Regions from separate parts of the Homo sapiens genome. Here region 2 is linked to region 1. The links come from fine-mapping of genetic effects on gene expression. Tissue or cell type: skeletal muscle. Region 1 holds a variant in brackets; the other region holds the start of a gene. All regions are shown on one strand. Distances are from middle to middle.

What was found. PIP is the estimated chance that this variant, and not a neighbour inherited with it, causes the effect.
Region 2: it holds the start of LINC03062, and the variant in region 1 is the best candidate, but not a certain one, in a credible set for the expression of LINC03062 in skeletal muscle (GTEx, PIP 0.78).

The regions. Positions count from the first base shown.
Region 1 is chr9:89,612,990-89,618,356 of GRCh38, forward strand. No RefSeq gene overlaps it. Among named protein-coding and RNA genes, the nearest start is that of GADD45G, 11 kb to the left of the region's middle. RefSeq lists an enhancer at 1,436-1,977. The variant T/A (reference allele first, on the strand shown) is at 2,843.
Region 2 is chr9:89,637,424-89,642,790 of GRCh38, forward strand. It overlaps LINC03062 (long intergenic non-protein coding RNA 3062), which reads left to right and starts at 2,360. Exons shown (of 6, transcript NR_024280.1): 1 at 2,360-2,556. RefSeq lists an enhancer at 2,103-2,672.

The DNA.
Region 1 (5,367 bases):
GCCTTGGACGTGCTGGTCCAGCTGCGTGAACTGCATGTTTTCTTGAACGGCGACTCTGCTTGCAGGTGGAATGCATGGAGTGCACGGGCGTCTGCCTAGAGAGGAGATGTGGGGGCTGGGCATGGAGGTAGCCGAGGAGTCAGCCTGCGGGCCCTGGGCCCTACCAGAGCTGGGTTCCACCTTAGCATTTAAGGAGGTGGCCTATACAGAGCAGGTGGCAGTGTCGGGACAGGGGGCTCCTTCCAAGGTCACCATGGGATTGGTGGGCAGGCCTGTGCCTGTGGTCCAGTCTCTGGCTCTGATTGGAGCACGCTCATTCCTACAGAACATTGGCAACCCTCTATCGCTCACCTGCAGCTGGGGATTAAAAGACCCAAGGGCCACTGACTGGGCCACTGAATCACTGATTTTCATCCCCAAATCTTTTCCCTTATATGAAATTTCCCAAGTGCTGTCAAATCACAGATTCTTAGTGTTGGAGGGAAGCTTAGTTATTCTTCATTTCACAGGCAAAGAAATGGGCTCAGAGAGGTGAGTCCATAGTTGCAGTGAGGTCCAGGTCTCCTCATCAGGTCTGGGCTTTGTTGACCCAGGGCCTTTTGGTCCAAAGTTGAAACAAAGGCCTTTTAGCATCCCCTCTGGGCTGCTATCCGATGCCTAGATGATGGGCCAAACACAAGCAGGATAGCTATGGAATTCACGGTTCTCCAGAGAAGGAAGCAGATGGGAAAGTGAGACCTGCCTCGCCTAATTTTCTTGTACTACAGTCTTTTGGTTAAAGCATCTCTCATTTTGTTATTGTTGCTTGTGGCTTCCCATTATGAGGAGTTGACGCGTTTGTCTGTCTGTCTAGCCTCTGGATGTGGGACAGGCAGATCAATGAGATCCAGGAAAAGTTTGTGTCTTGCTGTGTGAAAGCTGAGGCTGACCGAACAAAGTCACTCAGTTATGGGAACACTTGTTAAAAGGATGTCAAAGCTTTTATTTTCCCCCCTCAAAGTGGGTCTCTTGTCCTATAACCACTGACCATCTTGATCTCATACCGAGCCATTGATGTGGTTTTACTTCACCTCCAGGGGAGGTGGGATTTGCTACTGAGTTTCATGATTCATTTTTCAGCTTTCAGAGTTTGCTTTGGTTTGAGGTTTACATGCCTGTCAGTGATGAAACATGGTCATTAGAATTGATTCCGATTTTTGACACTTGCGTTATCCCTACCCTGCAATGGTGGATTGGGGTCACTCATTTACAGCCTATCTTCTGCAAGTGGGAAAATTCAAGAGAATAATTAAAATGTGTTGCGTTTTCACTATGACAAAGTTCAGACAAATAGAATTCTAAGGAACAACAGTGAAACAACAGTAAAAAGCAAAATTGAAAGGAAAGGAACAGCTACACTCTGGAGAAAGTATCCTCTTTTGCAGCAAGATTAAATTTCCCTAGAGTGATTCACGGCAGCAAAGCAATTCATGGAACTCCCGCGTTGAGCAAGAATTTGATGCTAACATTCCAGGAAGGAGGCTGCAACTGCAGGTTAGGCTCAGCTATCATAAGACCAGTTAAAACCATGGTGTCTTGACATGTCTGCAAATCACTCAAGCCCTGCAAGGCCGAAACAATGACCAAGATAAAGTCCAGGGAGTTGGTAGGTGGCCCACATGTCACCAAATGATCCACTTGGGCTGACTGAGGGTTTGAGGTCCTGCCAGGCTGTGTGGATGCCCACAGTCCCCATGCAGGGGAGGGTGAGTGAGTTTCTGCTTTCACCGTCATGAGCAGGGGCAAGCAGCTGTTCTCCTTCTATGTGGCCCCTAGGCCCCTGGGTATGCTCAGTCTCTCCAAGAGCTTGGAGAAGACTCAGGAGAAACAACTGCCCACCCAGAGGGGCTGCAGGAGCTGGGGGTCCCTCGGCGGCAGCATTCTCTGCTGGGGAAGGAGCTTAGCCATCTGGAGCTGCCTGTCCATGCTGGGTTCCCTGGCCTTGATCTTGATTATGTTGATAGAGAAGCAGACCACCCCACAACTGGGAAGCCCATTCCAAGGCAAATGGGCCATTCCACTTTCAGAGCTCCCCAAGGGGGCCCCGGCAGCTAAAGTGAGGCCTGAGCAGAACTTGCTGGCTTCCTCTGGTCACCAGACTCCTGCAGTGCCCATATGAGGTCAACAGTGTGGCATGAGGCCCAAATGATATCAGGTAGGGGTTACAGGGATTAAACTAGGAGCCCAGGGGTACACCCCCAGCTGCGTCCTCCAAGGGACTATCATCATAGGCACTTCTCAGTGGTCACTGCAGGCTCAGAGGACAGCTGCTGAAGCCCACTAGATGAGGCCATGTGCCATAGTCTGAATATGTCCTCTAAAATATATGTGTTGGAAATATAATCCCCAGTGTAATGGTGTTGGGAGGTGGGCCTAATGGGAAGAGTTTAGGGCATGAGGGCTCTGCCCTGGTGAAAGGATTAGTGCCCTATAAAAGAGCTTGATGGAGGGAGTTTGGTTCTTTTTCATCCCTCTATTCCTCTTGCCATGTGAGGATGCAGTGTTCCTGGCCCCAGAAAATGCAGCAAAGAGGTGCCATTTTGGAAGCAGAGAGCAGCCCTCACCAGACATTGAACCTGCTGGTGCCCTGATCTTGGATTTCCAGCCTCCAGAACTTCCAAAAAAATTTCTATTTTTTTAAATAAATTACCCAGTCTCAGGTATTTGGTTATATCAGAACAAACAGATGTACACACTGTGCTTAGTGTTTAGGGGCTTGAGTGTCCTGGGGGACAGGCCAGGTGGGGGTGATGGACTGGGGCAGAGCTTTAAAAGTGAAGCAGAACTCAGGCAGGTGGAGCTC[T/A]TGCACAGAATTGAGGACAGTCACTGCCCTGGGGACATCTTCTAGGTTTGCTCCCGGTCACCCCCTCAGTCCTGTCCTAAGGCTGGGTCTGCAGGGAGCCCACGCTTGGAGAGCAGATGCTGGGCTTGCTTGTGTTGCCTTTGCTTTTCCCAGCTCAGGGGCCTGGGCTCACACTCTTGCAGTAGGAGAGATTCAAGGACCCAAGGGTACACTTTTTCTGTGGGTGAATGGAGAGGGAGAGAGGGAAGGTGTGTGTGTGTGTGGAAGGAGAGAGAGAGAGAGAGAAAGAGGTTCTCAGAGCCTAAGCAGGAGTAGGATGGCCCACGGTGGAGAGCATGGTAGCCCAGGGAGTGGGGTCTGTGTTAGATGTGGGCTGCCCGTGGGGGGAGGGTGGGCTTCTAACAGTCCCAATGTGTCTGAGACGCGTAGGGCCCTGGGGTGACCTGGCAGTATCTGTTGACCTGAAGGTCGGGACAGGAATTGCTCAGCTTCTTGAGGGAATTCGGCACTTCTCTCTGTGTCCCTCTGCATAACAAATCACCCCCACACACATATTGGGATGTTTCTCAGCTCCGGTGACCAGCTGGCCTGGGCTCGGCAATTCCCTTGCTCTACCTGAGGCTGCCCAAGGCTGCCTGGTGGTCATGTGGGAGCCGGACTGGCTGAGAGGCTCAGGAAGTGCCATGGAAGGCACAGGGTGGGGTTGTGAGGCTGGTCTTCGCCAGGAAGCTAGACATCCCTGCTGCTCCCTCCCCGTGGGGCCTGTCCACACGGTCTTGTCACGGGGTCTCTCTCCAGAGCGTCCTGCACAGGGATGTTCCACTCCCACTGCGTTTTGTGGGTGAGTGGGAGCCACTGGTCTGGGTTACCCAGGGGAGAAGACCACCTGAGAGCAGGGATCCTGGGAGGGTGGCCACGGGGCCATCTTTGGAGATTTGCTGTGACTCATTTTCCTGAATCAGGTGTGAGGCTCATTTAGCTTACATAACTCATTTCAAGGAGAAATTACTTCAAAGTACAAAATGTTATCGTCTATGCCATTGCAGTTTTGGGGAAGAGTTACTGCTCTTTGCTAGGAAAAGCCTTTAGAGGGTTTTTAGAGGCAATAGGAATTGCCGAGATGAATTCCAAGGCAGAGATACTCATGAATAAGGGTTAATTCAGCAACTTAGTGAGGGCACATTATCAGCCCCTGGACCCTCCACTGGCACCTGACGGTACCAGGCTCCGCACAAGAACACTGCTGCCTGCACACTGTGGTGTCTGCCTCCTCTTGTAACTGGGCCTGCACTCCCCACCTTCTTCTCAGAGCTGATGGGGACAAGGCTGTGTCTCGGCACATCCTCCACCCAGTCTCAGCTGCCTGCTTCCTGGGAAGTAAGCCCCCAGGGACTCGATTTCCCTGTGCCCCCACCCCATCAGATATTCTCCACTTCATCTGAAACATCTGGAAGGTGGGAACATCTGTTATACCATAGGGTGGGTAGACGTGTTGTGGAAGTTCTTTTTGCAAAGAGGAGCTTCTCAGCAGGGCCAGGGGACCCTCACTCACCTCCAGGGAGTAAATCAGCTGGGTGGGGTGGAGTGGGGGGTGGGCCTGGTGCCTGTGAGGAAGGGCTTTCAAATCAAGTCCAGGCTTCCCCTGTTAACTCACCACTCTTCCCTTATCTGTGGGAAAAATAACAATATCATTTCATGCTATGATTTAAGTTTCAATAATGAAAATATCAATTAATACACTGAGCTCTAAACTCTGGAATCTAGCATAGAGGTCCAATTTCCACTCATCATTCTCCAACATGTGTCCCTCTTCCCCCATGCCTTCTATGTGTCCTGTCTGCGCCCAGGACTGCGTGTCCCAGGAAGACATGCCATGGGCCCCTGCCTGCTGGCTTCTCATTGGATTTGGCCAATGAGAGGTGTTGGTGGGAGATGAGAGGGCTGTGGGGAGGGAGGTAGGGGTGTGTCTTCCCTCTCACTCCTGCTTTCGGCTGAGTCCCCAGGGGTGCCTTGCCCCTCTGCACTTTACCTCCTGCCAGGAACCCCTGCCCCACGGCTCTGCTGTGCGTATCTTCTGCCCTCAGCCCTCAGCCCAAGGCTGGTGACAGTCCCCCGGTCCCCAGGAATACATCAGCTCCATCCTCTTGGCTCTCTGAGCCACCACACATCTGAGAATGTGAACCTTCCTTTCTCTGTGGGAACTTGGGGCGACACCTCCTTCTGCTTGGCCCTGGCTGGTGTGCACGCAGGAGGACTTGAGTGGAACCATGACCCTGAACAGGTCAGGCATGGGGCTGGCTTGCTCTTGGCAGAGCACTTGGCTTCAGTCCCACATACCTGTCCCTGCCTCTCCCACATCACTGGACAAAGCTAGGCTTGGGGTTGTGCCTAATCAGAAAGCAAAGCAGCACAACCCCCAGGTGCCTGGAAGGAGGGAAGCAGGAAGTTTATGAGTGGTGCCAGGACCCACACTGAGGCCTGGCTGCCAGTGACATGGGTGCCTGCTCAGACTCCTTTTGGCAACA
Region 2 (5,367 bases), 24 kb after region 1:
CTCATCCCCTCCCAGGTTAGCAGAAGCCTCGCAGGACTCTTCTCTGTGGCCAGGCCCATCATCTGCACCAGAAGTCCATCTCCGCATGCATCCTGTCCCTGGCCTGTCACTGCCTCAAGTCTTTTTCAGTTATCTCAGTAGAGGTGGTTTGAACTGGGTTCAAATTGATCTTCCACAAAGCTGGAAGCTTCACCAGGGGCTGGGGGTCAGGACTCAGATCCCAGACAAGTTTAACAACAGATACCTGTGTTTCAAACCTGTCTTCTGCTGGGCCCACAGCTTCCAGTTTTCCAAGCACCCCACCCCTCCCTATTGTCCACATAGGCTTCATGCCTTTGGGCCCAGCCAGTGAAGGTGTTAGGACGTGCCATCCTCTAAATCTGAACTAGGTGGGCATCATGAATCCAAGTCAGTCCAGAACCATGGCCCATGGACGGGCAGGTACCAGGGGGGCTCTGGGGTGTGGGATAAGCAGCCTTGTCCATACAAGCGTGTGCACCAGGTGGGGCTTCCCTTTGTGTCTCTTCCTGTGGGCTGTGCCTCACTGGCCGAGCTCTGTGTGTGGAAATCCAGCCTCAGGTGACTCACCCACCCCCTCAGAGGGCCTGGAGCTCTGTGATCAAGACCTGCTCCTCTGCTCCGCTTCCCACCTCCCTGTCTGCCACTCAGCTCCCCAGGACCTCTGGGCAGGGTCCCCCTGAGACCCGGCATCCACTCTGGACACCACTGGGCTTGCTGACTCTTCACAGCCTTGTTCCAGACTGCATCTCTGCAGGACTTACTTCTGTATGGTGTCCTGGTGATCCAGCACTCCCTGCTCTGCTAAAATGCAGACTCCAGGGGCAGGCTCTTGTTTTGTCCTGGAAGAATTCTTGCACTGTAGGAGTGAATTCAACACAAGTCACAGCCAGCTTGCTCCATCTTAAAGGCGAGGAGCCCCAGCCCCAAGTCCTGAGCTCTTGCCAACCTGTTCGAGACCACACATTGACCCTGGAAGAGGAGGAGCAGGTAGGCTGGGATGTGCCCAGGGACTTTCTGAAGCCTCAATCATCCCAGTTATGACCTCCCCCTGCCCCTCCTTGCAGCATCCCTCTTCATTCCTCGTGGAGAAGTGTGGGCTCCATAGAATGAACTGGCAAGTGTGCACTGTGTGGATGGCTCTGAGCAGCTGCCACCACCTGGGGTAGCATGGGCAAGGCAGACGACACAGAGTCTCCAGCCAGACCCCTATTACCAGCTGCCTGGCCTGGGACTAGCTATGTCACGTCTCCCTGCCTCAGTTTCTTCATCTGCACAGCGAGGATAATAACAGTGCTTACCTCTTAGGATTACCATGAGGCTCAAAGAAGGAAATGCAGAGAAAGTGCTTAGGACAGTGCTGGCCTTGTAGGAAAGACTCACAAATATTCATTGTTTCGTTGATGAGAGCAAGAAGTGCGCTTGTTACATATTCACCCAATAGTGTGGGGTGGAGGAATGAGGTACAGGTGGATACCCTCTTGGAGGACCTGCTAGCGTCTTACTTCCTCTGTACATGGATGGCAACACAGAGGCAGAAGTCTCAAGTTAACTTCTTTTTCGTTTCAAAGCATCTCATGACATTTAATACCCCTGCACTCATACTCGCCCGGAAGTGTGAGCTTGGTTCATCACTAATGGATATTTTCAGCCCTGCTGAGGAATCTGGGCCTGCTCCTTGCCTCCCTCACCTTCCTCTGCAGCCCATGTGAATTAGCCTGCTTGCCTGCTCAGGGACTGGTCCCCGCAGTGTGGCTCCTGGGGCCCCAGCTTCACTCCTTCAAGGGCCAGGATGTTGAAGAAGGGGGAAAGGGACCCCTACACTAGCCTGCCTTGTGTGGCCCAAAGACCCTTGCCAAGATCAGGTGGGGGTCAAAGTGCAGGAAAAGAAGGATGTCGATTTCAGAAGAAACTGTTGTGGGAATGGCAGGATGGCTCCAGCGTCAGCGTGCCTTCCTGCAGCTACCCCGGGGCCGCACGCCAGCAGCTCTTGGCAGCAGTCACACGGCTCTCGCATCCAACCTCTGCCACAGGGGAGCAGGCCTCACTTCCCCCAGCTTTGCTTCTCTGCCCTGCAGGGCTCCTTTCCTGTCCCAGGGAGCTCTACTTTCCAAGCAGTTCCATGGCCAACAGCTGGAGTCTTATTTTAGGGACGAGCTGGCAGCCCAGCATTTGTACTGAATGTTCCGGGTCGGCCTGGCCCGCGCCTGGTGCACCAGTGGGAACCCCATAAGTCTGGGCTTGGGGGAGTGAATTACTTCTGAGGTTTGCTGACATTCTGTTTGGCTGCCTGAAATGCTTTCTCTTCATTCAAAGAGCAGCTGCTGGTCTCCGCCCCTCTGTCTTTCCTTTCTCCTCCCGGTGGCTTCCCTGTTCCTGTCCCTGGCTTTCCTGGCTTTTTGGATCCCCATCCTGGCTCTGGGGGGAAGGAGGATGGGTCTGGAGCACCTGTGAGACCCGAGCCTGGGCCCACCACAGCAGAGGATGCAGCCTCCCAACCCCAAGAGTCCCAGATTGGAGTCCCTGAGAGAAGCTGGGGTAGGTGAAGTGGGCTCTCAGTCTGGGTGTTATCTTGGGAGGAGCGTGGGTCTCTGGGACACACTGGTAAGATGTGCTCCACTTGACCCTCATCATAACCAAGGGTCTGTTGGTGGGCTTTTGCCTTTGGTGGCCCCAGGGCCCCTGCCTTCTGGCTACTGCCATCCGTGGGGGATGAGTGACGTCAAACTTCCCCTTCTCCGGGCTGTTGGCTAGAGTGGGGGCAGTGGGAAAAACACATCTATCAGGCAGTCCCACCCCTGCACAAAGGAGCAGAGACTGTGCCTCAGCCCCACATCCCTGCCTGGTGGGTACCACATCACAGACAGACACGTTCTTAGCTGGCTGTGTGCAGTCACTGCCACCTTGGGCTCCTGGGAGGCACCAAAGGCCCATTGTGGGCCCCTGAAATGACGCACCCACCACAGTCAGCTGCCATCATGCAAGGCACCGAATCTGCTGTCCTGGTGGGATGGGATCTCACTTCTGCCTTTCCTGTTCAGCCTCCCCGGGCTCCATGCGCTCTGTGGAGGCCATGGCAGGATATGTTGTGGGCAGCTGGATTTCCGGCCCTCTCTGGTAGAGTCAGAGGGGTTGCCTTTGACCAGCAGGAAAGGGATTCGAAGGCGGACGCGAGTGGGCCCTGCCCAACTCAGACTGAGGAGGAAGTTTCTGCAGCGCCGGAAGGAGAAGCAATGAATAGCCACTGTCTAGACCCTCCCCTATGACTCCATCCCCAAGGTGCTCCAGACAGGCCTGAGATTCCCCTCTTCCTTCCTAGCCACACCACCCCTGGTGTGAGCCAGGCAGGCAGCCCAGCCCTCTCCAGCCCCGGCTCCTGGTGGCAGGAGGTGCCTTCCTGGCTGTAGCAGGAAGAGTCTCCAGGTTATATGGCCGTGTCCCTGTGCCAGGACTCGGGGTAGGGGTACACTCTGTTCTGACCCCCCCAGGAAGTGAGTTCCAAAGGAGTCGGGCCTTTGGAGGAGAACTTGGTGGCTGTGCTTTTGACCTGGCATTGCAGGAGCATAAGCCCTGGTCAACTTGAGCGAAAAAGCCGGACCCACTGTCACCATCTCACAGGCTGTGTCGCATGCTCTGGCGGTGAGGGCCTGTTTCCCAGCCCTCCCTAGCAGGAGACTGCTCAGGGCAGAGCTCCTGAGATACTATGGGTTCCTTTGGGGTGGAAGAGCCTGTGGCCAGGTCAGTGAGGAGAACAGAGTGGGAGCATGAGGGTGGGCTGGAGAGGAGCTGTTTGTCCCGCCTCCCGACCCCGAGGAGGGCATAGTCCACAGGCTATTTTAGGGAGCAAGAACTGGCCAGTCAGAATGTGCCTGCGCCTCTCCCCAAGACAACAGCACCATCAAAGGGGAACATCTTTGTCTTGGGGGAGCCATGTGGAATTGTACCTAGAACAGATTGTGAACAGGGGTGCCTGTCAATTTACATTTATCAGGACTCGTTTCTTTTCCCTCCCAGACTTGCCCTGCAAATCTCATGGTGGGGTGGGGATCAAGGAGAAGAGGGCTTATCTTGACTTTCATGATCTTAGTGTTAATGACAGTTACCCAGGATGGAGGTTTTTAGCCCCTTTCTTGGCCCTAGACCCAATGACCCCTTCCATGATATTTTTCAAAGTCCAGTGAAGCAGTGGAGAGAGGAGTGAGGGGGAGGAGAAGAGAGAGACGGGACTCTGTTGGCAGACGCCCTGCTGTCTTCCAAGACCCTATATAGGCTTCTGTGGAGTTCTTGCAGCTGAAAGCTGAGTCCTTTGCCTGGGGCAGGGGTGGTGTGGATTCTTGGCCATCACACTCCTGGAACCCTGAATCTTACTGTTCCACAGTCACAGACCAGCCAGGCTCAGGACCTCAGAGCTGCTTGTGGGCCCATGGAAAGTCATACTTGCTTCCCGTCGGCGCTGGGCCTGCTGTCATTTTGCAGCTTCTGCCCTGCAAATTTAGAGTTTTAGAGTTTAGTTTTAGAGTTTTAAGTCTCTAAAACCCTCACAGTTAATTTTTTCTCTTCCTTTAATGACACCCAAAAGGGCACCCAGCATTATGCCTCGGGTGTTTGACCCGGCTGGATATGGGATGGAGAGCGTTTGGTGGGTCCTGGGAGGAGCTCAGGCCAGGTCAGGATTTACCATTGTTATTGATGCTACAGATAACAGCCTTGCCCTGAAGGCTTTCACAGAGTTTATCTCCTTTCTTGTTACTCTGATAGGGCTGGGATTGTCCACCACCTGCTCAATGAGGGCTAACATTGAGTACCCAGCGAGAGTGCTGTATTAAATCTTATCTTGGCCAGGCACTATGGCTCATGCTTGTAATTCCAGCATTTTGGGAAGCTGAGGTGGGAGGCTTACATGACCTCAGTTTAAGACCAGCCTGGGCAACATAGTGGGACCCTGCCTCTACCAAAAAAAAAAAAAAAAATTAGCCAGGCATGGTGGCACATGGCACATGCCTGTAGTTCACCTACTCAAAATGCTGCGATGGGAGAATCATTTGAGCCACAAGAAGCCGAGACTGCCATGACCCATGATTGTGCTACCATACTCCAGCCTAGGCGATAGAGTAAGACTCTGTCTCCAGACAAAAAACAAAATCTCCTGCTTGGTGGAGACCTCTCAGAGTGCTGGGGAAGGGGCTCCGGAGTCCATAGGCTCTATTCTCCTCTCCCTTCCCTCACTTCCTGGCTGTGTGAGTTTAGCTATATAAAATTATCTCAGGGTTAGTTTTAGAAGCCAAGATTTGCATGTTAGGCCCTAAAAAAGATTGCATTTTCAAAAGGCAGTCACATCAACCTACAAAC